7 separate regions of the Homo sapiens genome follow, and all the other regions are linked to region 6. A link means that fine-mapping ties the variant in region 6 to the plasma level of a protein whose gene starts in the linked region. Region 6 holds a variant in brackets. A gene starts in each other region. All regions are shown on their reverse strands. Distances are between the middles of the regions.

Evidence for each region. PIP is the posterior inclusion probability: the model's chance that the variant is causal. The UK Biobank Pharma Proteomics Project read protein levels with antibody pairs (Olink). The fine-mapping took linkage between variants from a reference panel, not from the people measured, so its PIPs are less certain.
Region 1: KEL starts here. The variant in region 6 is fine-mapped to the plasma level of the KEL protein (UK Biobank, PIP above 0.99).
Region 2: it holds the start of LYVE1, and the variant in region 6 is fine-mapped to the plasma level of the LYVE1 protein (UK Biobank, PIP above 0.99).
Region 3: CSF1R starts here. The variant in region 6 is fine-mapped to the plasma level of the CSF1R protein (UK Biobank, PIP above 0.99).
Region 4: TNFSF8 starts here. The variant in region 6 is fine-mapped to the plasma level of the TNFSF8 protein (UK Biobank, PIP above 0.99).
Region 5: ICAM2 starts here. The variant in region 6 is fine-mapped to the plasma level of the ICAM2 protein (UK Biobank, PIP above 0.99).
Region 7: it holds the start of HEPACAM2, and the variant in region 6 is fine-mapped to the plasma level of the HEPACAM2 protein (UK Biobank, PIP above 0.99).

The regions. Positions count from the first base shown.
Region 1 is chr7:142,960,526-142,964,689 of GRCh38, reverse strand. KEL (Kell metallo-endopeptidase (Kell blood group)) reads left to right here and starts at 2,327. Exons shown (of 19, transcript NM_000420.3): 1 at 2,327-2,486; 2 at 2,818-2,895; 3 at 3,189-3,330; 4 at 3,586-3,762. The coding sequence starts at 2,484. RefSeq lists a cis regulatory region at 1-245 and a silencer at 2,368-2,563.
Region 2 is chr11:10,568,502-10,572,499 of GRCh38, reverse strand. It overlaps LYVE1 (lymphatic vessel endothelial hyaluronan receptor 1), which reads left to right and starts at 3,835. Exons shown (of 6, transcript NM_006691.4): 1 at 3,835-3,998. The coding sequence starts at 3,968. The region is part of intron 1 of IRAG1-AS1 (IRAG1 antisense RNA 1); the gene reads right to left.
Region 3 is chr5:150,084,238-150,088,401 of GRCh38, reverse strand. CSF1R (colony stimulating factor 1 receptor) reads left to right here and starts at 1,848. Exons shown (of 21, transcript NM_001288705.3): 1 at 1,848-2,023. The coding sequence starts at 1,975. RefSeq lists an enhancer at 1,761-1,790 and a promoter at 1,543-1,975.
Region 4 is chr9:114,929,502-114,933,633 of GRCh38, reverse strand. TNFSF8 (TNF superfamily member 8) reads left to right here and starts at 3,043. Exons shown (of 4, transcript NM_001244.4): 1 at 3,043-3,525. The coding sequence starts at 3,331. RefSeq lists an enhancer at 3,390-3,949.
Region 5 is chr17:64,018,284-64,022,283 of GRCh38, reverse strand. ICAM2 (intercellular adhesion molecule 2) reads left to right here and starts at 1,651. Exons shown (of 5, transcript NM_001099789.2): 1 at 1,651-1,761. RefSeq lists enhancers at 1,212-1,261, 1,482-1,571, 1,317-1,817, 1,912-2,031.
Region 6 is chr17:7,164,127-7,168,290 of GRCh38, reverse strand. No RefSeq gene overlaps it. Among named protein-coding and RNA genes, the nearest start is that of ASGR1, 13 kb to the left of the region's middle. The variant C/T (reference allele first, on the strand shown) is at 2,198.
Region 7 is chr7:93,223,364-93,227,499 of GRCh38, reverse strand. It overlaps HEPACAM2 (HEPACAM family member 2), which reads left to right and starts at 1,031. Exons shown (of 10, transcript NM_001039372.4): 1 at 1,031-1,132. The coding sequence starts at 1,054.

The sequences.
Region 1 (4,164 bases), not on the chromosome of region 6:
AGTGAAGGCTGCTGCACTCCCGTGACTGGGTATGGCTGTGCTGGTGATGACTCACCATGGAGTAGGATATGGGTGATAAGAAGAAGTCCTGCTCCTGAGACAGCTCCCAGGATGGAGGTTGCTTGGCCTTCAGGAGGAGGCTGAGTAGGAATGGTGGACCTGGCAGCTGTGCTGCCCTATCCCTGTGGCTGGCTCAGCTTCTCTGACAGGGAGAGAACCTAAGTCCAGGCTGTGGTGGCTGTCCATAGGCAAATGTCACAGAGCACACTCCATCTTCAACTTTCTCTTATCAAATCTAAGTGGTCTCCATTATCATCTTCCTAGGGAAACATCAGCTCAGGGGCTTTGATTGATAGAAAAGGAGTGAGGAAGGGAATATGTGTGAAGGAAGCTAAAAGCCCATGGGGAGAGTATTGGACTTTCTGTGGAAGGGAAGTTTGAAGAGGAGGCACCATCAGGGTGTACCCACACAGACCAAACACCTCTAGAATCCTGAGTCAGCTTTTTCCCCTCACTCTGATTCCTACTCCCCCCTTAATCAAAATTCCATTGTTCGCTGGCATCACTATTCCCCTAGTCATGCAGAAATGCAACTTGGAGCTCCTCTGTGGCTCTATCATAAACCCCTCCTCCATTCAATCCATTGCCATGACTTTATTCCATACAATTTTTCTTTCTACGCACTTCCCTCCCCTCTGCCATCCCCTTGGGCCGGGCCCTCCCTTCATCACTCCTGCAACACCAAACTAACCACTCTGTTTCTTGTCTTTTATCCAATCAGTCCAGATCCCCAATACCACACCGGCGTTTCTTAGATATTATTGTATCTTGCCACACCTTTCCTCAAAAGCCTTATTTTTCCCAATGCTTTCTTTTCTAATGTATGAAGTTCTGACTTTTCTTTATGACTTTCATGATACCCGACCAGCTGGCCCCAGGGGGCACAATGGCTTTACTCCACTTCTCCACACCCACCCTCATCCTGGCAAGTGCACCATGGCCCTAGCACAGTGCTGATGGAATCTGGAAATATCGCCAGGGGATCATTTGCAAGACTAACCTAATAAATTACATTATTTTTTTCCTGGGATGAGGAAACAAGGACAGAGTTGAAACACCTTCCCCCAGAAATGTGCTTGCCTCTCTCAGACCACAGGTAAGGGCTTAATATGATGTGAGAAAGAGGATTTCTGGCTTGGAATGCAATTCATTTCTATTAACATTTAGAAAGCATCTTGGGTGGGCAGGAATGAAAACCAGACACTGTACATGCTATGACATAGTTTTCAATCACTAAGGAGATGAAGAGGCAAGCTATCAGTGTAACAGAAAGCAGAATGAAAGAAAGAGGGGCTCAGTAAAGCCTTATTCTTTTGTAGAAGGCATGAGATCCTATGAGGTAGGCATAGGCAAGTATTACCCTCATTTTCCAGATGACAAAACTTGCTTACCTGCCTCAGAGTTTAAGTGGCTTGTTTATTGTCACAGAGCTAATAATTAGCAGATTAGGGTCTCCTAGCTGGGTGATCTTTTGAATGCATGACTTTGCCAGCAGCCAGCAGAGCTATGAAACACCGAGAGAAACAATTAAGCATGCTTGGGAACAGTGTGAATGGGCATGGAGCTGGGAGGCCTCCTGGGAAAGGTGGCATTTGACCTGGGAATTGATGAATCCCAGAAAAGCCAATCAGAGAGGTGTGAAAACAAAATTAAAATGGAGACTGGGCCTGAAAAATTCCCAGGCAAACAAAGCCAAAGACCTTAAAAATAGCCATATTCTTGCTAAAACTACAAACATAAATTAAACTTAACTTGGGTCAATTTCTGATAAATGCTTACAACAAATAAAACTTAACCCCAGCCAATGATAAGCAGCCAACTAACATATGATTATGTGACTAGGGACTTTCCAAAAAGTTACCTAAAAAATGCAATTATGTAACTGCAAACTAAGCAAATAATGTTTCATTTTGCTTCTATAACTTCCCAATAAATGCTTGCCTCTGACATTTTGTCATCGCAACACTAAACCTTTGTCGGTCTGGTGCTCCCCAATTCATGAATTGCTTCTTACTTAAATAAACTCTTTAAAATTTTACTGTGCCTCATATTTTTTTTAATACAGAAGAAATGAGAGAAGGAAGAATATTTTAGAAATAAAGGAACTTCATGGGCAGAGTCACAGTGCAAGACAAAAGGAGCAGACCAAGGGCAAGATTGCTTGGGGAGTGAAGACTCCCTCCCTCTTCTCCCCTGAGAAGCTGAGATAAAGGGGGAGGAGAAGCCTGGGTGCCCCCCACTGATAAGCAGGCTCCACCCAGAGGCCAGTCCTGTGTGTCTGGGGACAAGGCGAAAGAGCAGCAGAAGTGCCCCTTCTCCAGGATCAAGGAACTGGGGCGGGGGGTGTTTCCTGGACCCCAGTCCTCCGAATCAGCTCCTAGAGTGGAACCAGGAAGGATTCTGGAGCCACAGAAGATAGACAGATGGTAAGTCCCCTTTTGGAGTCAGAGGCTTAGCGGGGAGGGGTGAGGGTGGCTGTGTGCAAAAGTCCTGCCCCCACTGGAGGGGAGGGAATGTAAGGCTTACAGAGTAGAAAGGTGGGGAGAGAGGGAGGTAATGGGAGAGGGATCGAGAAATGGCACATTCAGGGGACAGGTTCGTTCTGAAGCCCATCTGGGAACACTGCTCCGAGATAAAAATATGTGTGTGGGGGCAGGGCAGGCAGCGAGGGTATCAAAATGGCCTGATAAAACTCTCTTCAATGCACCATTTCCTGAACCAGCTTCTCTCTCCTCCTTCTCCCTCCACTCACTTCAGGAAGGTGGGGACCAAAGTGAGGAAGAGCCGAGGGAACGCAGCCAGGCAGGTGGAATGGGAACTCTCTGGAGCCAAGAGGTAAGTGGCCTCCTCTCCTGGGTCTGGAATACACTGATGTTGTCACTCTCGGCTCTAAAATCCCACAAACACTCATCTACTAACTGTCTGCTTCATCCTCACCCAAAACAGTTGACATTCCTTGTTTTCTCATCTCCCAGGAGTTAAAGTAGGGCTGGGTTTAGGAAGAATTGGGATAATTATTTCTGTATAAAGGGACTGTAGCACCAACAGATTCATTCTCTCTCCTCTTCTTCCCATCCCTGTCTCTCAACCCCCATCTTGTATCTTTCACCTCTTGGTTCCTCCCACAGAGCACTCCAGAAGAGAGGCTGCCCGTGGAAGGGAGCAGGCCATGGGCAGTGGCCAGGCGGGTGCTGACAGCTATCCTGATTTTGGGCCTGCTCCTTTGTTTTTCTGTGCTTTTGTTCTACAACTTCCAGAACTGTGGCCCTCGTAAGCAAGATCCCAGACCCCCTAACCTAGTCAGCCCTCCCCCAGCCCTGGGGCCCAGGCCCAGTCCCTGCTCCTGGGGCTTCTGCCCACCCTGACCCTTGGGGTCCCCATGGTTCTTCTTCCTCCCTGCATCCTAACCATTTCTTTTTCATCAGCTCCCCACTTAGTTACTCACCTGATGTTCTTTGCCTAGCCCCTTGGGGGAGCCCTTGTCTTTTTGCCTCTTCTTTCCCAGCTCTGAGCTTTTCCCCACAGGCCCCTGTGAGACATCTGTGTGTTTGGATCTCCGGGATCATTACCTGGCCTCTGGGAACACAAGTGTGGCCCCCTGCACCGACTTCTTCAGCTTTGCCTGTGGAAGGGCCAAAGAGACCAATAATTCTTTTCAGGAGCTTGCCACAAAGAACAAAAACCGACTTCGGAGAATACTGGGTGAGGAAAGCAGGGTGGAAGATGCTCTGTGCAAGTGGGTGACTCTGTGCCTAAAATGACCATGACTGCTCCAAACCCTGTGTAGTTGTGGAACAACTGATTTGCACCATCCCAGGTGGGATTATACGGGTGGATGATTGGAGATGATGGGGGAGTAAAAGAGGCAGGATGGCGGGAGCTGCCTGGGTTTGCTCATCTCTCACTGTTTCCTGTTGCCTTGCCTTGGGTACCCTTCTTCCGTTTCTCTTGGTCCCTTTCTGCATTTTTTTCTTTATCTAATTTCCATCTTCTTTGCTTCTCCATGTATCCATAATTACTCCATTCTCTCCAACTTGTCCCTTTTAGCAAGCTCCATCTTTGTTGCTTCCTCCAAATGTTCAGTTTCTATCCTATGCATGGTGT
Region 2 (3,998 bases), not on the chromosome of region 6:
AATGCATACATTTGAACCAGAAATTGTGTACTTTAATAGCAAAATTCCAAAATATGAGGTTCTAGCTTACCAGTTACATGGCAAGAAACAAAACTGCTAGAAAGATGGTAAGATAGTAAAGTCTTACCTGTGATAACTTGGAAAGCATCTCATGGTTAGCCTATTTATAAGTGGTGGAAAGAATCAGCGTTGGGGTATGGAAACTTCTCTTGGCTGCCTTTGGCAAGGTATGGCAGGAGAAATAATTGGCTATGTGGGAGCAAAAATGAAAAAGAATATAGAGTATTCAGAAATGTGAAAGATTGAAGGGTGAGAAAACCTGACCACTTCTAAATCCCAGACAGACTAAAAAGAGCTTTGAGTGGGAGCCAATAAAATTTCTCAGTTGAACAGATCGACTCAGCCTTATGGCAAAGGCTAGATTAAGGATGTGGCCCTTTGTGAGTTCAAATGAACTTAGTGTATTCACCACTAAATTTGAGGGGTATGGTGCTGAGAAACAGGAAATACTTCTTGAGAATTATGACTGGGAAAGGATTTGGGGTATGATTATTGGCACATGGAAGCAGAAATCTAACTTTGTGAGGGAATTTACAAAGAAACACAAGCCAGGACTAAAAACCCCTTTCATTGTTCAGGTGAGGAAACAGCTTTGAGGAGGAAAGAAAATATATCAGAGAGATACCTGCACCCTCATGTTTATTGCAGCAGTATTCACAATCGCCAAGATATGGTATTAAAATGTGTCCAGCAACAGATGAGTGGATAAAGAAAACATGGTGTACATACACAACGGAATAGTATTCAGCCGTAAAAAATGAAATCCTGGCATTCACAGCAACATAGATGGAAATGGAGGTCATTATGTGAAGTAAAATAAGCCATGAACAGAAAGTTAACACCACATGTTCTAATTCATGGAAGCTAACAAAAGATCTCATGGAAGTAAAAAACAGAATAGAGGATACTAGTGGCTGGAAAGGGAAGAGAGGAGGAAAAGACAGATTTGTTAAAGGACATAAAATTAGGAGGAACAAGTTATAGTGTTTTATGGCACTATAGGATGACTATAGATAACAATAACATATTTTCAAATAGCTGGAAGAGAAGATATTGAACACCCCCAACACAAAGGATAAATGTTTCAGATGATGGATATGCTAATTAGCCTGATCTGATCACTACATCTTGTTTGTATGGAAACATCAAAATGTACATGTGTATAATTATGTATTGATTAAAAATAAAATTTTTTTAAAATTAAGAAAACTTTTGGGATCTTAGCTTATGCCGGCAGGAAGCAGACTGCAAAAGCTGTGCTATTCCCAAGGAAGGCATACTCCCTAATATCCACTTCAAATGTGGACAAGCAAGATTATATGCAAATGAATCTCCCAGAGGGATGCAAAGGGCCGCAGAAAACAGTGGATGTGGAAGTTTCTCTCAGAAAGCAGATCAGAATCAAATCAAGGTTAAGTGACTGTGGAAGGCAGAATTTCTAGAATAGCCCTCCAAAGATGTCCCACCCTAATCCCTGGAGCCTTTGAATAGGAGCTCCAGGGGTATGGAGCTTTGTTGTGTTACATTAGATGGTACAGTTGACCTTAAGATAGGGAGGTTATCCAGGTGGGCCCATGAGCCCTTAAAAGCAGACAGCTCGCCGGGCGCGGTGGCTCACGCCTGTAATCCCAGCATTTGGGAGGCTGAGGCGGGCGGATCATGAGGTCAGGAGATCGAGACCATCCTGGCTAACACAGTGAAACCCTGCCTCTACCAAAAATACAAAAAATTAGCTGGGTGTGGTGGCGGGCGCCTGTAGTCCCAGATACTCGGGAGGCTGAGGCAAGGAATGGCATGAACCCAGGAGGCAGAGCTTGCAGTGAGCTGAGATCACGCCACTGCACTCCAGCCTGGGCAACAGAGTGAGACTCTGTCTCAAAAAAAAAAAAAAAAAAAAAAAAAGTAGAGAGCTCTGCTTGAGCCCAGGAGGTAGATGCTGCAGTGAGTCACGATGGCGCCACTGCGCTCCAGCCAACAGAGCAAGACCGTGTCTCTTAAAAGAGCAGAGAACTTTCTCTGGCTAACTGTAGAAGTGAAAGAGAGACTAGAAGTATGAGAAGGACTCAGTGTGTCATTGCTGCTTTGAAAATGGAAGGGCTCTAGGAGAAGAGAATGGTCCCTGGCTGACACCCTGCAAGGAAACAGGGACCTCATTCCCACAACCTCAAAGAAATGAATTCTGCCAACAACCCAAATGTGCTTCGAAGTGGATTCTTCCCCAGAGCCTCTGGGTAAGAGCCCAGCCCAGCCAGCACCTTAATGTCAGTTTCGTGAGACCCAGGGCAGAGGACCCAACTGAGCCCACTCAGACCTCTGACATATAGAAGCTGTTAAATGATAAATGAGTACTGTTTAAGCCGCTAAGTCTATGGTAATTTGTTGGACAGCAATAGAAAGCTGGCACAGCGACCTTTCTAAGGCCTCTTCATTGGTATTCCAGAAATTCTATGGCTGGTGATCACTGTGACTCTCATTCTCCTCCTTGACACAAAGCCTTGCCTTCCCTGATTCATTCTTCCCCTTCCTGTCTTCCTTCGTTCTTTTTGCAATAAGTGAACAAATGCTAGAAAGCTAGCTCTCTTTCGGGCATGGTGTTAGGCTTTAAGAATAATCATGAAGAGGCCAGGACTCTGCCTGTCTGCCTCCCTGGTGCTGTGATGATAGAGTCATGCATGTTTCTGAGAAACTGGGGCTTGTGCTCACCCAGATCATGAGGTCGGTATTGGAGATGTGTAAGGGCTGTTACCCTGGTCTTTTAGAAGTTCCCTGCATTTGTTTAGAGCAGATTCTCTTTTTGTTATTGATATTTTTCACACAAATATCTAACTTTATGACCAGTACCACTTATATAAAAAAGAATTCGTTATCCATATACTTTTCCTATAAAAGACATTCATTTTGGAAAAATCTCATAAACCTTTGCCCAAGACATTGCTTACAAGCCAGAACTCCATAATTACCATGAAGCAAAAACCACTGAAAATCCGGCTGGAAAAACATAGAATACACTCTGCTGGTACACAGCACAGATAAACCTCATGTTCATCGAACAACAAAGGTGGAGTCTGACTTGAATTCTGGCCTACCAGAATATGAAAGGAGTTATTAAGAGAAAGTTATTTCATAAAAGACCCCTGTGGTGATTACTATTGTAAAGTTAAAAATCCTTGGGGAAAGTGTAAAATGTTTAATTTTGTAAATTGCCCTCCTACTTGTGTTATGTAAATGTGAATGTTTATATGTGCCTGGTTTCTTTGAAAAAGGAATCACCTGTAGTGGTGTAGAGATTTCAAATGTGTAAAAGGAGACTCAAAGGAAGGCAGAAGGTTCTAGACTCAGTATTTAAGTGGACATTTACTTTCATGAGCTTCAGCATCATACCCTGCAGATCACAAGGCCGAACAGCTGGGTGGAAAAATCACTGATTGCGGGAGGAAAAGAGGCACAACCTATGCTCAGTCTCCTTTAGGGACAGAGATGTTTCTAGGAGTACATAAACGATGGACTCCACAGGCAGTAACAGTGAATGGTGTGAGAACTGAGCTGCTGGGGGAGGAGGAACAGCAGGGAATATGGGAATTGGGAGAACCTTTAGCAGTTCACACTGTGCTATCTGCCTTCCTCATTTGTGTGTTTTCTGAGTCAGCATTAGCTAAATTTTCCAGAAGGCCATCCACAAAGTACAGCCTGGGCGTTCAAGGGACGTCATTCATTTCCCCCAGTGACCTTGACAAGTCAGAAGCTTGAAAGCAGGGAAATCCGGATGTCTCGGTTATGAAGTGGAGCAGTGAGTGTGAGCCTCAACATAGTTCCAGAACTCTCCATCCGGACTAGTTATTGAGCATCTGCCTCTCATATCACCAGTGGCCATCTGAGGTGTTTCCCTGGCTCTGAAGGGGTAGGCACGATGGCCAGGTGCTTCAGCCTGGTGTTGCTTC
Region 3 (4,164 bases), not on the chromosome of region 6:
TGGCTTCATAGAATGAGTTGAAAAGGATTGGTATTAATTCTTCTTTAAATGTTTGGGAGAATTCACCAGTGAAGCCATCTGGTCCTGGGCTTTGCTTTGTCGGGAGGTTTTTGATTACTGATTAAATTTCTTTTCTTGTTATAGGTTTATTTGGATTTTCTTTTTCTTCTTGAGTCAGCTTTGATTGACATTCATGATTGCTAAAGGTTCAAAACACTTTTCTGAAAAAGAAAGTACATATATACACTCATAAATATACATACAAACACACACATACACACCACACACACACCTGAGTACACGGGAATGATCATTTTCCTGGATCAATGTTATATCAGGATTTTTCAATTTCAAGAAGGAACTTTAGGCTGGGTATAGTGGCTCATACCTATAATCCCAGTACTTTGGGAAGCCAAGGTATGCGAATCACTTGAGCTCAGGGGTTTGAGACCAGCCTGGACAACATGGTGAAACCCCATGTCTACCAAAAATACAGAAATTTGCTAGGAATGGTGGCACATGCCCCTGTAGTCCCAACTACTCAGGAGGATGAGGTAGGAGGATGGCTTGAGTCCGGGAGGTGGAGGTTGCAGTGAGCCGAGATCACACTACTGCACTCCAGCCTGGGTGACAGAACCAAACCCTGTCTCAGAAAAAAAAAAAGAAAAAAAGAAGAAGAAATGACCATGTTCTTTAGAGATAAGAAGTAAAATACTAAGCGAATCAACTAAAAGAGGTAAAAGCAATTGCCTCCAGGAAAAGAGGGAGCAAAGGAATGCTATATATTTTAAGAATTATGCAGAACAATTAGATTCTTTGTAAAAATAAATAAACAATGTAAGTAACGCACAAAAGATAGTTTTATAACCAGACTGCTGGGATCCAAATCCTATCTCCACCATTTGGTAGCTGTTTGACTATGGACAAGCTTAAGGCATTTGATCTCTCTGAGCTTTAGTTTTCCCATCTGTGAAATGAGAATGACAATAGTACTTACCTACATAAAGTTTTGCAGTACTAAAGGAGACAGTGAATGTAAAAGGTTTGGCTAGTAAATGTCCTGTAAAAGGAAGCTTATTGCCAATATTATCAGGCTCTCCCAGACCAACCTGTATACAGGAAGAAAACAAACTCCGTTTCTCCTATAGTCTCACAACACAAAATACTTCTGACCCCAGATGTAGAGGATGGGGCATATTTCCCCATACACCAAGCAATCAACCAATTGTTCAGATTCTGCAGCAGACACGAATCTGGTGCCCTCCGATTCAATTTGAACACTATATTTACCTAGAGATAACGTCAGATCTCACAGCTTGAAGGCTTGAGCCAGGAGTTTGAGGCTGCAGTGAGCTATGATCGAGCCACAGAGCTCCAGCCTGGGCAACAGAGTGAAACTGCGTCTCTAAAATAATAATAATAAATTTTTAAAAGATATGCATTACTTTGGAGATTCCAAGGATTTTAGGAGTTGTAAGCCAGGACATCAGGGTAAAGAAAAAATATATATGTCACAATATCATGCAACCTAACTTCTCTTTGGGATCTGCCAGAGCCACCTGATCACTCTGAAGACCCTCATTTGTGCTACTGACTAACGGTCTGGCTGCTCTTGGACATGTCTCTTCTCCCAAGACCCCTTGAAGATGGCTTTAGAAGGGCCCCAAACTTAGCTAGCTCCCCCCAAGCTCAGGCTGGCCCTGCCCCAGACTGCGACCCCTCCCTCTTGGGTTCAAGGCTTTGTTTTCTTCTTAAAGACCCAAGATTTCCAAACTCTGTGGTTGCCTTGCCTAGCTAAAAGGGGAAGAAGAGGATCAGCCCAAGGAGGAGGAAGAGGAAAACAAGACAAACAGCCAGTGCAGAGGAGAGGAACGTGTGTCCAGTGTCCCGATCCCTGCGGAGCTAGTAGCTGAGAGCTCTGTGCCCTGGGCACCTTGCAGCCCTGCACCTGCCTGCCACTTCCCCACCGAGGCCATGGGCCCAGGAGTTCTGCTGCTCCTGCTGGTGGCCACAGCTTGGCATGGTAAGAGCAGAACGGGGGGTGGGGGACTTTGTTGGGGTGTGATGGAGAAGACCCCTGTGAAAGGATTCAGTCCTTGCCCCTCACTGGGTGTCCTCAGGCTGTTTTAGTCTCCCCAACACTGGACTGCAGGCTTGTGGGTATCTGCTTTGGAGAGGTAGTGGGGTGAAAAGAGATGGGTGTGGTGGAACTGGTCCACCTGGTGCTGTGGATCTGTCCCAGCTCTGCCAGCGACTCACTGTGTGTCCTGAGCAAGCCTCTGATACTCTTGAGGCTTCAGTGTCCACTTCTATTCAATTGCAGGTGTTGGGGGCAGGGGGACAGTGATAGACTAGACCAGAGCAGTGCTTTTCATACTTTCCTGTGCATACAAGTTACCTGAGGATTTTGTTACAATGCAGATTCAGACTCAGTCGGTCTCAGGTGCGACCTGAGATTCTGTATATCCAACACACTCCTGGGAGATGTGAGATGCCGGCACTGCTGGTCCAGACCTACACTGAGTTGGGAGGACCTGGAGAGCTCCTGATGGCTCTGGCAGCTCTGCCAGCCTGTGATTCGATGATTCTATGCAAGATCTGATTTGGAAGGGCCTGATAGGGGTGGTGGTTCTTCCTTGGGTGGCTTGTGTAAGGGGTCAGAGGGGAGAGACAAGAGGTTGGCCTCTCTGGCCCAGGGCTCAGGAGAGGGGAATTCGGGGTGAAATAGGTATAGGGCTAGAGGAGGGATTGGGAAGAGGCCAGTGAGGGTCTCCTGGACCAGAGCCCTCCCAGACACAGGCTGCCAAGTCTCAGGAGGTCCCCAGGCTGTAGCAGTTCTGCAGAATTTCCATCTGGGAGGGAACATGACTAGAGGTGAGGGGCTGCTGTGCTTGGCTTGTTGGCCCAACAAACACATTTCTATTGCCTGCTTATTCAAAGGGACCTTGGGGGAGGATGGGGATTGAAGGGGAGAAAGGACAGCCTCATACTGGCCTCTTCACAGAAGGACCCTAAGGCCGTGGCGCTTCTGGTCCCTGATGAGGAGGAGATGGCCCACTGACCATCCTTCTCTGGCCCAGGCAATCACACTGAGCTTGAGTATTTGGGTTTTTTTTTTTTTTTTCCTGAGACAGAGTCTCTCTCTGTCACCAGGCTGGAGTACAGTGGCACAATCTCGGCTCACTGCAACCTCCACCTCCCGGGTTCAAGTGTTTCTCCTGTCTCAGCCTCCCAAGCTGGGATTACAGGCATACACCATCATGACTGGCTAATTTTTGTATTTTTAGTAGAGATGGGATTTCACCATGTTGGCCAAGCTGGTCTCGAACTCCTGACCTCAGGTGATCCACCTGCCTTGGCCTCCCAAAGTGTTGGGATTACTGGTGTGAGTCACGGCGCCCGGCCTGGACTTCTTATTTTGCAATGTAACTTACATGCAGTAGAAAGCACAGGTTCTTAAGTTCAATGAGGTCTGACAAATGCACACACAGTGTACCCGCCACCCCCTTCATCTCAGAGAGTCCCACAGGTTTGATTTCACTGCCTTGTCCTATCCTTACACCCACAACCTGCCTGTGGGGCAAAAACGGAAAAGTATCTGAGCCAGGTCTCAATTTAATTTTATTTTTTTTATTGAGATGGAGTCTTGTGGCCAGGCATGGTGGCTCACACCTGTAATCCCAGCACTCTGGGAGGCCGAGGCGGGTGGATCACAAGATCAGGAGTTTCAGACCAGCCTCGCCAATATGGTGAAGCCCCCTCTCTACTAAAAAATACAAAAATTAGCCGGGTGTGGTGGTGGGTTCCTGTAGTTCCAGCTACTCAGGAGGCTGAGGTGGGAGAATCACTTGAACCCGGGAGGCAGAGGTTGCAGTGAGCTGAGATCATGCCACTGCACTCCAGCCTAGGCGACAGAGCAAGACTCCATCTCCTTCCTTTCTTTCTTCCTTCCTTCCTTCCTTCCTTCCTTCCTTCCTTCCTTCCTTCCTTCCTTCCTTCCTTCCTTCCTTCTTTCTTTCTTTCTTTCTTTCTTTCTTTCTTTCTTTCTTTCTTTCTTTTTTCTATCTTTTTGAGACCGAGTCTTGCTCTGTTGCCCAGGCTGGAGTGCAATGGCATGGATCTCGGCTCACTGCAACCTCCGCCTCCGGGGTTCAAGCAATTCTG
Region 4 (4,132 bases), not on the chromosome of region 6:
CAGCACTTTGGGAGGCCGAGACAGGCAGATTACGAGGTCAGGAGTTCAAGACCAGCCTGGCCAACATGGTGAAACCCTATCTCTACAAAAGATTAAAAAAAAAAAAAAATAGCCAGGCCTAGGGGTGTGTGCCTGTAATCCCAGCAACTCAGGAGGCTGAGGCAGGAGAATCACTTGAACCTAGGAGGCAGAGGTTGCAGTGAGCCGAGATTGCGCCATTACACTCCAACCTGGGTGACAGGGCGAGACTCAGTCAAAAAAAAAAAAAAAAAAAAAAAAGGAGAGAGAATGAGCAGAAGGGACTCTTACACCTGTCTCTCTCCCTGATGGTATGTACTTCCTTTAGTTGTTCCCATTTCTGTGTCCCAGTTTCCTCCTTTTGTGGAATGAAGGATTCAAGCCAAATTTTCTGAAGTTTCTAAATTTTATTCACCTTGGAGAGACCCCATGCCAGAAAAGGGCAAATGAGCAGGTGAAGCTTAGCCCTTCTCTTTGTCCCACCTGTGCTTCAGCCAAAGCAGCCCTGTTTTCTTATGTTTTTATATTCCTTATACAGCTTTGCTTCCAGAAAGGATTTAAAACTTACTCAACAAGAAATTCTATAAAGGCTCCTTCCATCTGCACATCGTACAGCTTGAGTAGAAGACAGAAAGAAGCCAGTTAGCACAGGTCATGGATTTCTATGTTGGCCAGGCTAGATTCTAGAACAGCTGGAAAGCAGAGAGGGGCTTAGAGCAATGGGGGTGGGAAATAGGGAGCCACTGAAGGTTTGTGAGTAGAGGAGTGTCACAGCAAAAGAATGAATTGAGCCCACAAACTACTGTACTAGGAACTGATCCGAAAATCTCAACTGCTCAGAAAGTTGAGTAAAAACAAAGGGTGATTTTTCCCCCTTGTCAGCCTTCCCTCCCAGGACATTGTATTGTATGCAAAACGGGTAACTGTAAGACAAACATTTTTTTCCACTGCCCTTCTCAGCCCCACAGGCCTTCAGGAAGACCCGAACTTCAAGCAAAGCCTTTTTATTTTTCAACACCCACAGCTTCCATTCAACAATCAGAAGTTTTCCACTTTGATCAAAGAGGCTGAACAAGAGGGCCAAGGGAGCAGCTGGTTCTCAGCAACTCTGGGCAGACCACAGAGCCCTTGCTACCCACTCACTGTCCGTGCCCACCAGAGGACACAGCCTTCTCCCCAAATCAGCCAGGTACATGCCCCAGAAAACACTGGCTTGCCTCGTTCCCACCTTAATTACCGGACCAAACGAACGTGAACACACTGTTTTCAAAACCAAACTCAATTGGGATCACGGGGGCCTCGGTTTCCTTGATTGTAAAATGGGTATATCGCCCCCCACTCTATTTAGCCCAAGAAAACAATTTATCTCTTGATGTCTCTTTCGTCTCCAGGATCTATGCTTTTACAGACTCACTGGGAGGAAATATCCAGACCAAATCCTAAAGCCTGATCTAATTTGGGAGATGCTCAGAAGTTTTGGTTCTATGCAAGAACAGCAGTGGTAATAATCCAAGCTTGGCTTTAGACACAGGACGTTTCCTTAGGGGCATCTGGGATCTCTGCTGGCTCAAAGTGATGCGCTGCAGACAAAAAGTGAGCAGAAAGGAAAGGAGGTGCTATGCAGAATGAGCTTCTTCCACGGTGATACCAAATGGAGCTTTCAAAGGCCCACATCTGGAGGCAGCAGCTATGCAGTGATTAACATTTTAAACGGTATTTTGAAATGGAGATCATTAGTAACCACAGATGTGATCTGACTCTGTCCCCCAGGTAATCTGTCTATTGTATCTAAATTCCAGACTTAGCCCAGTAGACAGCTTGGGATGTTTAACAGGAATTGTCCAACACCATCCCCAAATCTATTTTTATTCATGGAGTACTCTGACATCATCTCGCTTGGTCTTCCTGATGACTGTAATGCAGATTGGGAACAGAGAAAGCCATAAAGACTTGTATGATGGCCCAAGGCTAAGAAGGGAAAGGGCTGAGACCACACTTCAGGTTTTAGCTTTCAGGTGCAGTGAAGATTGAATGACTTAGCACGAGCTTTCAGCCAGGCAGGCTGCAAAGTGCACCCAAGTTCTTTCAGTGATCGACACTTGCGACTTAGGTTGAGATAGTTTTCATCCTCCCTGAGCCTCAGTTTTCCCATCTGTAAAAAATAAACATTGCCTGCCTCGGAGGGTGGAGGTGGAAGTGGAATGAAGCCACATGTAACTCCTAGCGCTGTGCCTGAGACAGTAGAGGTTCAATTATAGTAGTCACATACACACACAACACATACATACACAAGACACAACACACCACACACAACACATACATACACACCACACACAACACTTACATACGCACCACACTCGGCATGCATTGCAGATCACAAATGCACACCACACACACACTGCATACATATACCATAGAGAACACACAACACCTACACATACCCCCATACCACAAATACACACACACTACATAGTACACCACGCAGAACACACACAGCCCCCATATTCCACACCACACCATCTCACTGCCAATTCCTTCCCCTCTTCATGAGTTTTACGGCAGGTCCAGGTTCATCTGCCAGTTTAACAGATCCCAAAACTTCTGCAGGAGTGTTTGTTCAAAAGATTGATATTTCCAGATTCCTGCTTTCTGACAGTATCTTTGAACCCCAAATTTCATACTGCCATGAGCCAGTCCCCCTTTGGAGAAATATCTCCATTTGTGTGCCCTTTTTCCCCCAGGGAACCTGCAGCATGTCCCTTTTTCAGCAGTAGCCTATCAAACCGAACCCTTTGGAGTTATTACACTGCAGTCCGAGGGATCCGGCCTCCCTGAGACCCAGCAAGGACTCATTATCTGGGGAGGTCTTCTGAGCCACAGGCCTCGCTGAAAGAAGGTGCAGCTTCTTGAACAGGAAGGCGTTTTGTGGCAGAGTCTAAACGAAACAGAAGTTGCTTTGTGTGTGCGCACGCATGCACACACACACACACACACACACACATACACACACACAGTCGGGGAACCGTCATTTTCCTACGCGCCCTCTGACATCAGCCACCTTCTCTGTAGCTAGTTTCTCTGCACACAACTTAATCCCTGGCAATGAAAAATGAACCTCTCCCCCACCCTTGCTGCCGCCTCTCGCCTCACGCCCCCAGAGAAGAGTTTCTCCACCAGGCAGCAGGTGAAGGTTTTTTTCCAAGTCACATGATTCAGGATTCAGGGGGAGAATCCTTCTTGGAACAGAGATGGGCCCAGAACTGAATCAGATGAAGAGAGATAAGGTGTGATGTGGGGAAGACTATATAAAGAATGGACCCAGGGCTGCAGCAAGCACTCAACGGAATGGCCCCTCCTGGAGACACAGCCATGCATGTGCCGGCGGGCTCCGTGGCCAGCCACCTGGGGACCACGAGCCGCAGCTATTTCTATTTGACCACAGCCACTCTGGCTCTGTGCCTTGTCTTCACGGTGGCCACTATTATGGTGTTGGTCGTTCAGAGGACGGTAAGTGGACTCCTCTTCCTCCCTTTCCTTTTCTTGTTGTTTTCCCGAGAGAAAGAGCCCTGGGAACAAATGATATTCGTTTGTTGGTTAAGAGCACAAAATAAAATTAAATAAATAAACTCTCTCTCTCTATATATATATATATACTATAGTATATACTGTATAACGTAATACACTTATGTTACATAATATATATTATATTATACAGTATATATTATATATATATATATATATGAGAAAGGGAGAAAAGAAAGAGGAACTTAACTCTCTAAAATAATTTGGCTTGTTGAGAAAAATATTGTTAGACCATCATCTTAAAACTTTGCAGATCTGTCTGAGCAAAACAGTGGAGGGGAGCTATTGGCCTTTTAAAGTTAAGATTTAAATCTTAATGAGCCAGAGACCCATATCAAGGAAGGAAGCAATAGAGAAACCTGATAACACATTTGCACAAGTTGTTATCATGTCTTCAAGGACTTCAGACTGGATTCTGAGGTTCTATATCCTAAGTCTGAGTGTCCTGGAGGTTTCTGAGGCCTCACCCATTGCCAAGAGTTTTGTTTTTGCTTTTGTTTTATACAAGGAGCTAAGTTTCAGAGGCCAAGGT
Region 5 (4,000 bases), 57 Mb before region 6:
TGAAAGCAGAGTCTTGAGCAGGTATTTGTACAACCCTGTTTGTAGCAGCACTATTCACAATAGCCAAAGGTGGAAGCAACACAGGTGTCCATCAGTATATGAATGCATGAACAGAATGCGGCACACACGCACAATAGGATATTGCTCAGCCTTCAAAAGGAAGGCAGTTCTGGCCAAGCGTGGTGGTTCATGCCTGTAATACCAGCACTTTGGGAGGCTGAGGTGGGCGGATCATTTGAGGTCAGGAGTTCGAGACCAGCCTGGCCGACATGATGAAACCCCATCTCTACTAAAAATACAAAAATTAGCCAGTCGGCACGTGCCTGTAATCCCAGCTACTCAAGAGGCTGAGGCAAGGCCAGGCACGGTGGCTCATGCCTGTAATCCCAACACTTTGGGAGGCCAAGGCGGGCGGATTGCCTGAGCTCAAGAGTTTGAGACCAGCCTAGGCAACATGGTGAAACCCCATCTCTGCTAAAATACAAAAGAAATTAACCAGGCGTGGTGGCGTGCACCTGTAGTCCCAGCTACTCAGGAGGCTGAGGCAGGAGAATTGCTTGAACTCGGGAGGCGGAGGTTGCAGTGAGCCGAGATCACACCACTGCACTCCAGCACTCCAGCCTGGGCGACAGAGTGAGGCTCCATCTCTACAAAACAAACAAACAAACAAACAACAACAACAACAACAAAAACACTGAGGCAAGAGAATCGTTTGAACCTGGGAGGCAGAGGTTACAGTGAGCCAAGATCACACCACTGCACTCCAGCCTGGGCAACAGAGCGAAACTCCATCTCAAAAAAAAAAAAAGAAAGAAAAGAGAAAGAGAGAGCTCCAGAGATGGATGGTGGTGATGGTTGCAGAACAATGTGAATGTACTTAGTGCCCCAAACTGTACACTTAAACATAATTAAAATGGGCCTAGCACGGTGGCTCATTCCCAGCATTTGGGAGGCTGAGGTGGGAGGATTGCTTGAGCTCAAGAGTTTGAGACCAGGCTGGGCAACATAAGCAACACTCTGTCTCTACAAAAACTACAGAAATTAGCCAAGCCTGGTGGCTGCACACTTGTAGTCCCAGTCACTTGGGAAGTTGAGGAGGGAGGGTCACTTGAGCTCAGGGGTCAGAGGTTGCCACGAACTGTGATTGTGCCACTGCACTCCAGCCTAGGTGACAAAAGCAAGACTCTGTCTTAAAAACAACACAACAAAAAATTGGCTGGACGCAGTGGCTCTTGCCTGTAATCCTAGCACTTTAGGAGGCCGAGGAAGGCAGTTCACTTGAGGTCAGGAGTTCGAGACCAGCCTGGCCAACATGGTGAAACCCTGTCTCTACTAAAAATACAAAAATTAGCCAGGCGTGGTGGCAGGTGCCTGTGGTCCCGGTTACTCTGCGGGCTGAGGCACAAGAATCACGTGAACTCGGGAGGCAGAGGTTGCAGTGAGCCGAGATCACACCACTGCACTCCAGCCTGGGTGACTGAGACTCAGTCTAAAAAAAAAAAAAAAATTGAAATGGTAAATTCTGTTGTGTACGTTTTACCACAATTAAAAAAAAAAAAAGCGGAATGGGAGTGGAGCTAAATGAGGCTAGTTTAGGGTGGGAACCGGGGCACAGGAAGCACGTCACTTCTGGTGGGGAGTGGGGGGAGGGAGAAGACTGAATAAGCCGTGAACTGGGCAGCTGTGACACGCGCACCTTGTCACCTTGTCACCAATTTCCTGCCCGGGATCCCAGAGCTACCCTTCTTGGAGCCCACAGGGGTAAGGTTGAGCTTCTCACTTTCCCTCCAATGAAGCGTGGCAGCATGGGAAGGATTTTGGCAGTGTCGAGGTCTGAGTTTTAGTCCGTTCCCCTCTCTGGGTCTCAGTTTCTCGCTGGTAAGTGCAGGGGTTGGGGAATCCCCAGCGCTCCTGTGGCTCGACATTCTGCACTCTGTGAAGCTCCTGCCCTGCCCTGCTGGGTCTCTGAGCTCACGCACTTGCCCTGGCGCTCCTTTCCTGATTTGTCTCCCCTCTCTCCTTCCTCTGCTCTGCCATCTCGGTGGCCGATGTAGAAATGTGGGGCTGCCTCCTTATTTAGGGGCCCACGTGGGCTGTGATCTGGACCATCTGAGCTGATGCAGAGGGGAAGGGACAGTCCCTGTTCTCCCCGGCAGGCGTGGTGGGTTCATAATGAATCTCAGTCACTCACTTCCTACCTGCCTCGGTTCGAGGGGGTCTTTCCTAACCCATGGCTCACATTCCCATGAAGCCTCTTCTTTCTAGGCACGTAGAAAGGCCCTTTTTCCCTTTTATTATTTTTGTAAAATTTACTAGGTAACGCATAAAAAGCTTATGTAACATACATATACATCATACTGCACAGTAATATACCAAACACACCTGAAGCTGCCACTCAGCACAAGGATGGAGTATCACCAAACTGCAAACACCACTTATCTGCTTTTTTTTTTTTTTTTTTTTTTTGAGACAGAGTTTTCATTCTTGTCGCCCAGGCTGGAGTGCAGTGGCACAATCTTGGCTCACCACAACCTTCGCCTGCTGGGTTCAAGCGATTCTCTTGTCTCAGCCTCCCAAGTAGCTGGGACTACAGGTGCGCATGCCACCATGCCCAGCTAATTTTTGTGTTTTTGGTAGCGACAGGGTTTCACTATGTTGGCCAGGAGAGTCTCGATCTCTTGACCTCATGATCCGCCCACCTCGGCCTCCCAAAATGCTGGGATTACAGGCGTGAGCCACCACACCTGGCCACCACTTGTCCACTTTTATGCTACTTGCCTCCCACCCACAGGTAGCCACCCTCTGGAATTTTGTGTTTATTGTTCTCTTATTTTTAAGTGCTTTATTACATATGCATCTCTATTTATTTATTTATTTATTTATTTACTGAGATGGGGTCACACTATATTTCCCAGGCTGGAGTGCAGTGGCTATTCACAGGCATGATCATAGCACACTACAACCTCGAACTCCTGGGATCCAGTGATCTTCCCACCTCAGCCTCCTGATTAGTTGGGACTACAGTCTTGAACTGCTGCACCTGGCTATGCCTATTTATTTTTATTTTATGAAACAGTTATATAGCGTTACTGTGTGCTAGGCACTGTTCTAAATGCTTTAAAATATTTACTTATTTTATTTGTTTAATCTGCACAAAAACCCTATGAGGAAGATACTATTATTGATTCCTTTTTGCAGATGAGGAAATTGAGGCACAGAAAGATTAAGTGATTTGCTCAAGGTCACACAGATAGTGAGAAGTAAGGCCGGGAGCAGTGGCTCATGCCTGTAATCCCAGCACTTTGGGAGGCCAAGGCAGGAGGATCATGAGGTCAAGAGATAGAGACGGTCCTGGCCAACAAGATGAAACCCCATCTCTACTAAAAATACAAAAATTAGCTGGGTGTGGTGGCGTACGCCTGTAGTTTCAGCTATTCGGGAGACTGAGGCAGGAGAATAGCTCGAACCCGGGAGGTGGAGGTTGCAGTAAGCCAAGATCGCGCCACTGCACTCCAGCCTGGGCGACACAACGAGACCCCGTCTCAAAAAAAAAAAAAAAAAAAAAAAAAAGAGAAGTAAACACAAAGACATGTCTGGTTCTTAGTGTGACAGCGTTTCTAGGGCATACATCTAAGAATGGAACTGTGAGTTACAGGGTATAAGAATATTCCGTTTACAAGATAATGCCTAATTATCTCTGAGAGCACCAATATACACTCTCATCAGCAGTTAGAAGGGTGCCTATTAACCTACGGCCTCTCCAACAATTGGTCTTGTCATATTTCTTAACTTTTGCCAACCTAATACATATAAAATAGTATCGGTCCCATTGTAATTTTAATTTTAATTTCCCTGGCTACTCGAGCTAAATAATCTTTTCACTTGTTTAGACATGTTTCCTTTTCTTTGAAATGTTTCTTTGTGTCTTTTTTTTTTTTTTTTTTTTTTTTGAGATAGAGTCTCACTCTGTCACCCAGGCTGGAATGCAGTGTCGCGATCT
Region 6 (4,164 bases):
AAAAAACAAAAAATAAAAAATAAAAAAGGTAACATGTTCAAGTAGTATAGATGCCAAGAATTCAAAGATGATTTAACATAAGAAAAATCTGTTAATATAATAGATTTAGAGAGTACAGAAAAATAGATTAAATGTGTACAAAAGAAAACAATTACACAATGCAGAAAAAACACTCAGCAAAAGTTCAGCTCTGATTTATGATGAAATCTTTCTGGACTCTAGCTGTTTCTACGTTGTTGCTCCATCGTTTCAATCTGTGGCTTCCATCACATGTTCCAAGATGTCTGCCCCTCCTGTTATGACACATTCCGGACAAGAGAAAGGGGAAAAGGGAAGGAGAATGGCGCATTCTCTCTCTGTCTATGCAGACACTTCCATCACTTCACTTTATATCTCTTTGATCAGAATTAGTCCCAGGGCCACAGATAGCTGCAAATGGGGCTGAGAAATGAACTTTATTCCATGAGGCCACATTCTTGCTAAAAACACAGGATTCTATTTTGTAGAGAAGGAGTCAGTAAACTTTGGCCCTCACCTGCTTCTGTAAATAAAGCTTTCTTTTTCTATTTTTTTTTTTTTTTCTGAGACGGAGTCTCTCTCCGTTGCCCAGGTTGAAGTGCAATGGCACAATCTCGGCTCACTGTAACCTCTACCTCTCAGGTTCAAGCAGTTCTCGTGCCTCAGCCTCCCAAGTAGCTGGGATTACAGACGTGCACCACTATGCCCGGCTAATGTTTTGTATTTTTTCTTTTTTTTTTTTTTTTAGTACAGACGGGGTTTCACCATGTTCGCCAGACTGTTCTCGAACTCCTGGCCTCAGGTGATCTGCCCATCTCAGCCTCCCAAAGTGTTGGGATTACAGGTGTGAGCCACCACACCTGGCCAGTTTTTTTTTTTTTTTTTTTTTTTTTTTTTTGCAACAAGGTCTGGCTCTGTCGCCCAGGCTGGAGTGCAGCGGCGTGATCTTGACTCACTGCAGCCTCTGGATCTTGACTCACTGCAGCCTCTGCCTTCCAGGCTCAAGTGATCCTCTTGCCTCAGCCTCCCAAGTAGCTGGGATTACAGGCGCAAGCCACCATACCCTGCTAATTTTTGTATTTTTTTGTAGAGACGGGGTTTCACCATGTTGCTCAGGCTGGTCTTGAACTCCTGTGCTCAAGTGATCTACCCGCCTTCGCCTCCAAAGTGCTGGGTTACAGGAATGAGCCACGGATCCCGGCCTGTAAATAAAGTTTTATCGGAACACAGCCATGCCTGTTTGTTTACATGTCATTTATGACCACAGCAACAGCAGAATTGAGTAGTTATGATAAAGACTGTATGACCTGGTAAGCCTAAAATACTTGCTATCTGGCCCTTTATAGGAGATGTTTCTGGACCTCTGGTGTAGCAAGAAGGGGATAATTGGTATTAGGGGTAATTAGAAGCCTCCGTTATAGTGCTATTATTGCTGTTCAGCATCATCCTGGGCATGGTAGCCAAACTGCACAAGACAGAAAAAGACATTAAAAGTTGTAAGAATTGGAAAGGAAGAGATAAAACAATATGCTCACCTATACAGAAAATCAACACCATCAACAAACAAACAAACAATTCGACCTAATAAGAGGCTTCGGCAGGTGTATTAGTCTATCACCACAATAACACATGAAGAACATACAAGAAGAAACTTAAATTCTTTCCAAATTAACATATACATTCAACGCAATAAAAATAAAATTTCAATTGATTTTCTTTTTGAGATGGATTCTCCCTCTGTCACCCAGGTGGGAGTACAATGGTGTAATCTCACCTCACTGCAACCTCCGCCTCCAGGTTCAAGCGATTCTCCTGCCTCAGCCTCTCAAGTAGCTGGGAGTACAGGTGCCCGCCACCACGTCCAGCTAATTTTTGTATTTTTAGTAGAGATGGGGTTTCACCGTGTTGGCCAGACTGGTCTTGAACTCCTGACCTCAAGTGATCCACCTGCCTCAAACTCCCAAAGTGCTGGGATTAGAGGAGTGAGCCACTGCGCCCGACCTCAATTGGATTTTTAAAAGCAATGCAACAACTTTAAAAAAAATATATGTGGCAAGATAAAAGTCAATATGGGAAAAAAAGGAGAAATTGGAGGAAGGGGGAACTAGCCTTATTAGACTTTAAAATATATTACAAAGCCATAGTAATAAAAATAGCACAGTAATGATACAAGAATAGA[C/T]GGATAAACCAATGTTATAGAATAAAGAGCCGAGAGACAGAACTGTGCCTACATGGGAACTTAATATACAATAAAGGTAACATCTCAAATTGGTAGAAGAAAGACATTATTGGGAAAACTGGCTCACTCTATGAAGATAAGTAAAACTGGATTCATACCTAACATCACAGGCAAAGGTGGATGTTGGATAGATTGAAGACCTAAACATATAACATAAAATTACAGAACTAGTAGGAAAAAAGAAAGAAAGAAAAATCTATACTACTAAGAGTATAGAAGGGTTTCTTCTTCTTCTTTTTTTTTTTTTTGAGACAGAGTCTTGCTCTGTCGTCAGGCTGGAGAGCAGTGGCGTGATCTTGGCTCACTGCAACCTCTGCCTCCCAGGTTCAAGCAATTCCCCTTCTTAGCCTCCTGAGTAGCTGGGAATACAGGCATGCGCCACCACGCCCAGCTAATTTTTCGAATTTTAGTAGAGACGGGGTTTCACCCTGTTGGCCAGGCTGGTCTCCATCTCCTGACCTCATGATCCACCCACCTTGGCCTCCCAAAGTGCTGGGATTACAGGTGTGAGCCATCGCGCCCGGCTGAAGAGCTTGTTAAATAAGGCCTCCGAAGCACATTCCAAAAAGCCAAAAAAAATTTGTGAAATTGCATGAAAATGATAAATTTCAGTTCAACAGCAATGTATCAGGTAGGCTCCCAGCAAGCAACAGATGGCACACCCAAAAATGGGTAAGTGCAAGATTTCATAATATAGGGACTCTCTGCAAAGGTGTGAACAGGCTTAGGGAAGCCACAAGATGGAGCAAGAACCTAGGCATCCCAGAGTGGGGAGCTGTTACCACCTCCAGGACCGCAGGGAGAGGGCCTCCCAACAGGAGCTGTGATACTCAGTTGCAGGGGGCAGCTAACCCACAGCCACTCTACAGGGAGGGGCCGGGGAGTTAATATCCTCACTTCCCTCTCTTCCTGGAAGAGGGCTGGAAGCCAGATGGCAAGGGAGCGATTTGATGCAGTCATACAGCTCAGCCTCCCAGGCCACAGAACAACATGGAGAAGGATAGAGTGTGGATCTGGAAGGACAAATGGAAGACATTCAACACAGAAGGAGACCAAGATGAAGAAATACACAGGAAACCTATTGGAAAAGTGGCATCAGGTATAAACAAGCAGTTCACAGATGAGGAAGCCTGGGGTTCTAATGTGCATATGAAGACATGTTTACAATCACTAGTGACTAACTAGAGAAATCAAACACGAGTGAGCCATCTGTTTACACCCATCCAATTGACAAACATTAAGAGGAAGTCAATTGCTGCCAAGGTTGTGGGAGAAGCTGCTGATGGGAGGATAAATTGGAATAGCCATTCTGCAAGATATTTACTGGAATTAAGAATACATAGTATCAGGACGGGCACGATGGCTCACGCCTGTAATCCCAGCACTTTGGGAGGCCGAGGCGGGTGAATCATGAGGTCAGGAGTTCGAGACCAGCCTGACCAACATGATGAAATCCTGTCTCTACTAAAAATACCAAAATAAGCCGGGCATGGTGGCGTGCGCCTGTAATCCCAGCTACTCAGGAGGCTGAGGCAGTAGAATCGCTTGAATTCGGGAGGTGGAGGTTGCAGTGAGCCGAGATCGAGCCATTGCACTCCAGCCTGGGCAACAGAGGGAGACTTTGTCTAAAAAAAAAAAAAAATGCATATTATCGGCCGGGCATGGTGGCTCATGCCTGTAATCCCAGCACTTTGGGAGGCCGAGGTGGGTGGATCACTTCAGGTCAAGAGTTCTAGACCAGCCTGGTCAACACAGTGAAACCCCGTCTCTACTAAAAATACAACAGTAACAACAAAAATTAGCTGGACTTGGGGGCGGGCACCTGTAATCCTTGCCACTTGGGAGGCTGAGACAGGAGAATCGCTTGAACCCAGGAAGCAGAGATTGCAGTGAGCCAAGATTGTGCC
Region 7 (4,136 bases), not on the chromosome of region 6:
TTTACTTTAATTATGCTTGAGGTATAGTCTTCCTTCCCCTCTTATCATTGAACTTCTTCAGTGGGCCTTTACTGTTAAAACTGATGCATGCAAGGAATTTTCCTTGATTTGATGATTTGATGCAGATTTGGATATATCCTTAACATTTTATATAACAAGGCTAGAACCAGAGCCTTCTTGCAAATAGGGGTTAACTAATAACTTAGTAAATTAAGCGGACATGCTTAGACTATCTGCTGCCATGACAATGGAGAGACCAGGTTGAAAACCTGTAACCTGGACACTGCAGTAGAGGTAAGATCTTTTCTAGATCATTGGTTCACTTCCTCTATGCATCAGCTGTGAAAATGTGGCCTCAGATACTATCTCCTGGCATGCACTTTTCATTATAATTATGCATGGTCCATGCCTCAGTCCCAGTTGGAAACACACCTGTGATTTGCTTTTAAAAATAAGATGAATTCAAAGATTAAATGAAATCAGTCATTGTAATAGGAAACACTGCATAGAAAAAATACGTTTTAAATATATTCTGGATCTCTCTTTTGATTCATTGGTAGAATTTTTACATGTTAGTGACTTCATGAAGATTTATAACTGTTTAGCAGATACATGAGCTACTTCAATTTTCATATAATTTTTTTTAATTTTAAAATAATAATGGCATAGTTCTGCATGATAGAAAACCAGCTTTTGTTTTTAAGGAAATCTCACAATATTCTTTCATTATGAAAACATGCCATTTTTCAGTAAAGTCACGCAAAAGGATGTTTTCCTTCATGTGATTTTTTAATAACTAAGTATAATTTATGAAATATATAGACAATTACTGGTAGTTGCTAAGAAACTCTTCTGAAAGCCATAAGCCTGTATTCTTGCTAAGCACATAACAGGTGTTCCCACTCCCTGTGTCCTTTGTATACACATTCATTCTGTATTCAAATCACAGAAGCAAGAGGCAAGATAGGGTCTGTTACCTCACTGCTAATTTCCCTAGCAAATAAACCAGCAGCTGCTGGTCCAAGTTACCACTGAGAACAGGGCACTGCATGCATGGGACAGGATGCTTTCATGGAGCCCTTCGGTGACACACTTGGGGTCTTTCAGTGCAAAATATACCTCCTTCTCTTCGGTAAGGCCCTGTGTGAATTGTGTTTTAGCTGTTTGTTAGGTTTTTTTTTTTTAATTGTGGACATAAGGTAAATATTTGCTTTAGGCTGTAGATGCATTCAGATAATTGAAGAGCAGGTCAGAACCTTTTAACAATAACACACTGTTACAGCAAAGAAGCAGGAACATTTAAGAGAAATGAGTTTCAATAAATAGATTGTTATTGTTTTCTTGGAACAACAATTATTGTCATAGCACTCATTAAGATAATTCAGATATTTTTAAAAGATAATGAATTTCTTCTTTTAGAGTTTACATATAGGTTCAATAGTCTTTAATGCATTTATTTCAGCAAATATTCTAATAGGCCATGAAATTGTGACCACTTAGAGTGAAACTACAAATAATTTACGAAAATTGTTTTCTTTTTAATTAAAGATATTGTTGCAAACTGTTTACTGCTTCGTTTTAAGTTATCTGTCTCATCTTATGAAATATGGAAGAAAGGTAAGATTCCAAACTAACAAAAAAATTTCCTACACAAAAGGGAGAACGTATTTGAAAAGATTGTTACTCCAAAATGCCTTTAGCTTTTCTCTTTGCCCAATGGCTAGTCCTATTAAGAATTTTTTTCTACCTTAATATTTTCCCTCATTCTCCTCTTTATCTTTTGAGTTTAAAGGAGTCTCTTTCCAGCATTCCAACTGCTGTCTGTCAACATTATTTTCACCAGATGTTCTCATTTCCATTCTTCCTATTTATCAGTTTTAAAAGTCAAATCAATTTCTTGTTTTGTTTATATTCAACAGATAGGAGTTCAATTAAGGCTACATTTTTTAAAAATTAAGAACAGCTTAGCAAAATAAGCAATTTAACTTTTAGGCTTCTTCAGCTATTTAGAGCTTTACTTTCACTCCTATATTTTGTTAAAGTTTGCATTGTAAATGTTATTATTCAAATTCATACCTACTGTTGTACCTATCTCACACATTTGAAATGTACAGTTTGTAAATTTTTTTAAGTCTTTGAGTTTCCCAGAGTTGTGATTGTTCCAGTTATCACAGTATTTATGTTATCAAATTTAAGCCTATAATAGATTTTTGTTTTCTAAAATTTTTTGAAAAAGTAAATAATTATTATAACTGTCACTACCTTTGTGCATTTGTCTTCCTTTTGAAAGTATCCTGGGTCATCATCCCACTTATTTTTATATTTAAAACAGTAGGACTACTATCATTTTATAAGTGTTGTTTTTGAAACTGGCGTTAAGAAGAACTTAGAGACAATTTAGTTAAGGAATTCAACTAAAATAAAACAAATGTACATTAGGAAAATAGCATGTTCATAAATAGCTAAAGCAGTTTTTATACCTTAAGACCTTCTCTCTTCTGCAAATTTGCTTTTCTCCATAGGCAGTGTGTTGTAAAGACCACAGATGACTTGGCAATCTTTGCTTTTAGGAATATTGAAGTTTTGTTTGCTTCTTCTTTTTAAAAAATTTTTAAAAATTTGAAGCCTAAAATGTACAGTTTGTACAGTTTATTCAAAACACATCATAATTTCTATTTTCTCTAAAGATGCAAGATTTTATTTTCAGTCAACAATACTTGTGTTATGCTTGTTAATACCACACATGATAACAGGGAAGTAAATGCCAGCTATTTTGAGCTACAGCAGAGGTCACTTTGTGAAATCTGATGTTTATATTCAATACAATGAAACCGGTCTAGGGAGTCCTTTGTTGCTGGAATATAGATAAATTCTACAGTAGGACTTCAAGTGTACCTTAACACTGGATACTTTTTTATAGTGCTATTGTCATACAATGTAAGAGGGTCTGTAAAGGAGGGATCATTGCTGCAATTTTGTATGTCAGATTATGATTAGTATTATAAATGTTTCTCCAGATTTGTGTAATGCCTTATATGCAAAAAGTCAAGATTTTTTTAACAGAACTATAATTTATAAGAGTTTTTGTTTGTTATACTCAGAAAGTAATAGTGAATATAATAATAAAATCGAATTTAAATTTCCGTTTAAGTCCAAATATTTGGACTACTAAAAATAAATTTAAATTTCATCAATTTTTATATTATTTATTATTTTTGTTTTTGTATTTTTTCAAATAGAGACAGAGGTCTCGCTGTGTTGCCCAAGCTGGTCTTAAACTCCTGGGCTCAAGCAATCTGCCACCTCAGTCCCCTAAAGTGCCTGGGATTACAGGCATTAGCCACCACAACCAACCTTTTTATATTATTTATTTTCTTGAAGTTTATCTGTTCATGCAGAGGATGATTTTCTAAAATCAATAGGTTTAGTCCTTTGGGTTTTCTCATACAACTAGAAAAGAGCACTTGAAAATTTCTCAAAATGAAGCTAAGTTTTCTCACATTAGTAAACTACTGTGTTTGACAGCATGAATTCATCACATCTGTAGTGGGTGACACATCAATGATAAGAGAGTATGTGTTCCTAGAATGTGGAGGAAGCATTCAATTATCTGTTTATTCCCAAATTTCACTACAAGCAAAGATTGTATCATATTGATAGGTTCATGTCCAATGAAGAGATTTTACGTGGCTGAGATAAGATACTGTATAAAGAAAATTTCATTCCCTGCTGACATTCTTATAACTTGCTACCTATAATTTATCTGATAAAAAATTGTATAGGCAATCTCTAAGCAAATAGTTACTGTAACAGCTGTGCTATTTCTCACTGTCACACAAACATTTGAAAAAGCATACATATTTGAAAAAAACTTTTCATTTAATAAGAAAGCACTGAACCTATTCAGAGATATTGATGGCAATATATTATTTAAGGTATTATTACATGATGCAGTCTAAAATAGACCCCAAAACTAATTTTCCCCTAAATAATGATCACAAACGCTATATTAAATATCTTTTTCTACTAATGTAGTGTTATTTTTTCTCAGAGCTTCAATATTTGTATTGTATTTAATATTTCATTAAATAAAATTTTCCTCCTATAATTTTAGTCATGGACTCTCTAACCAGTCT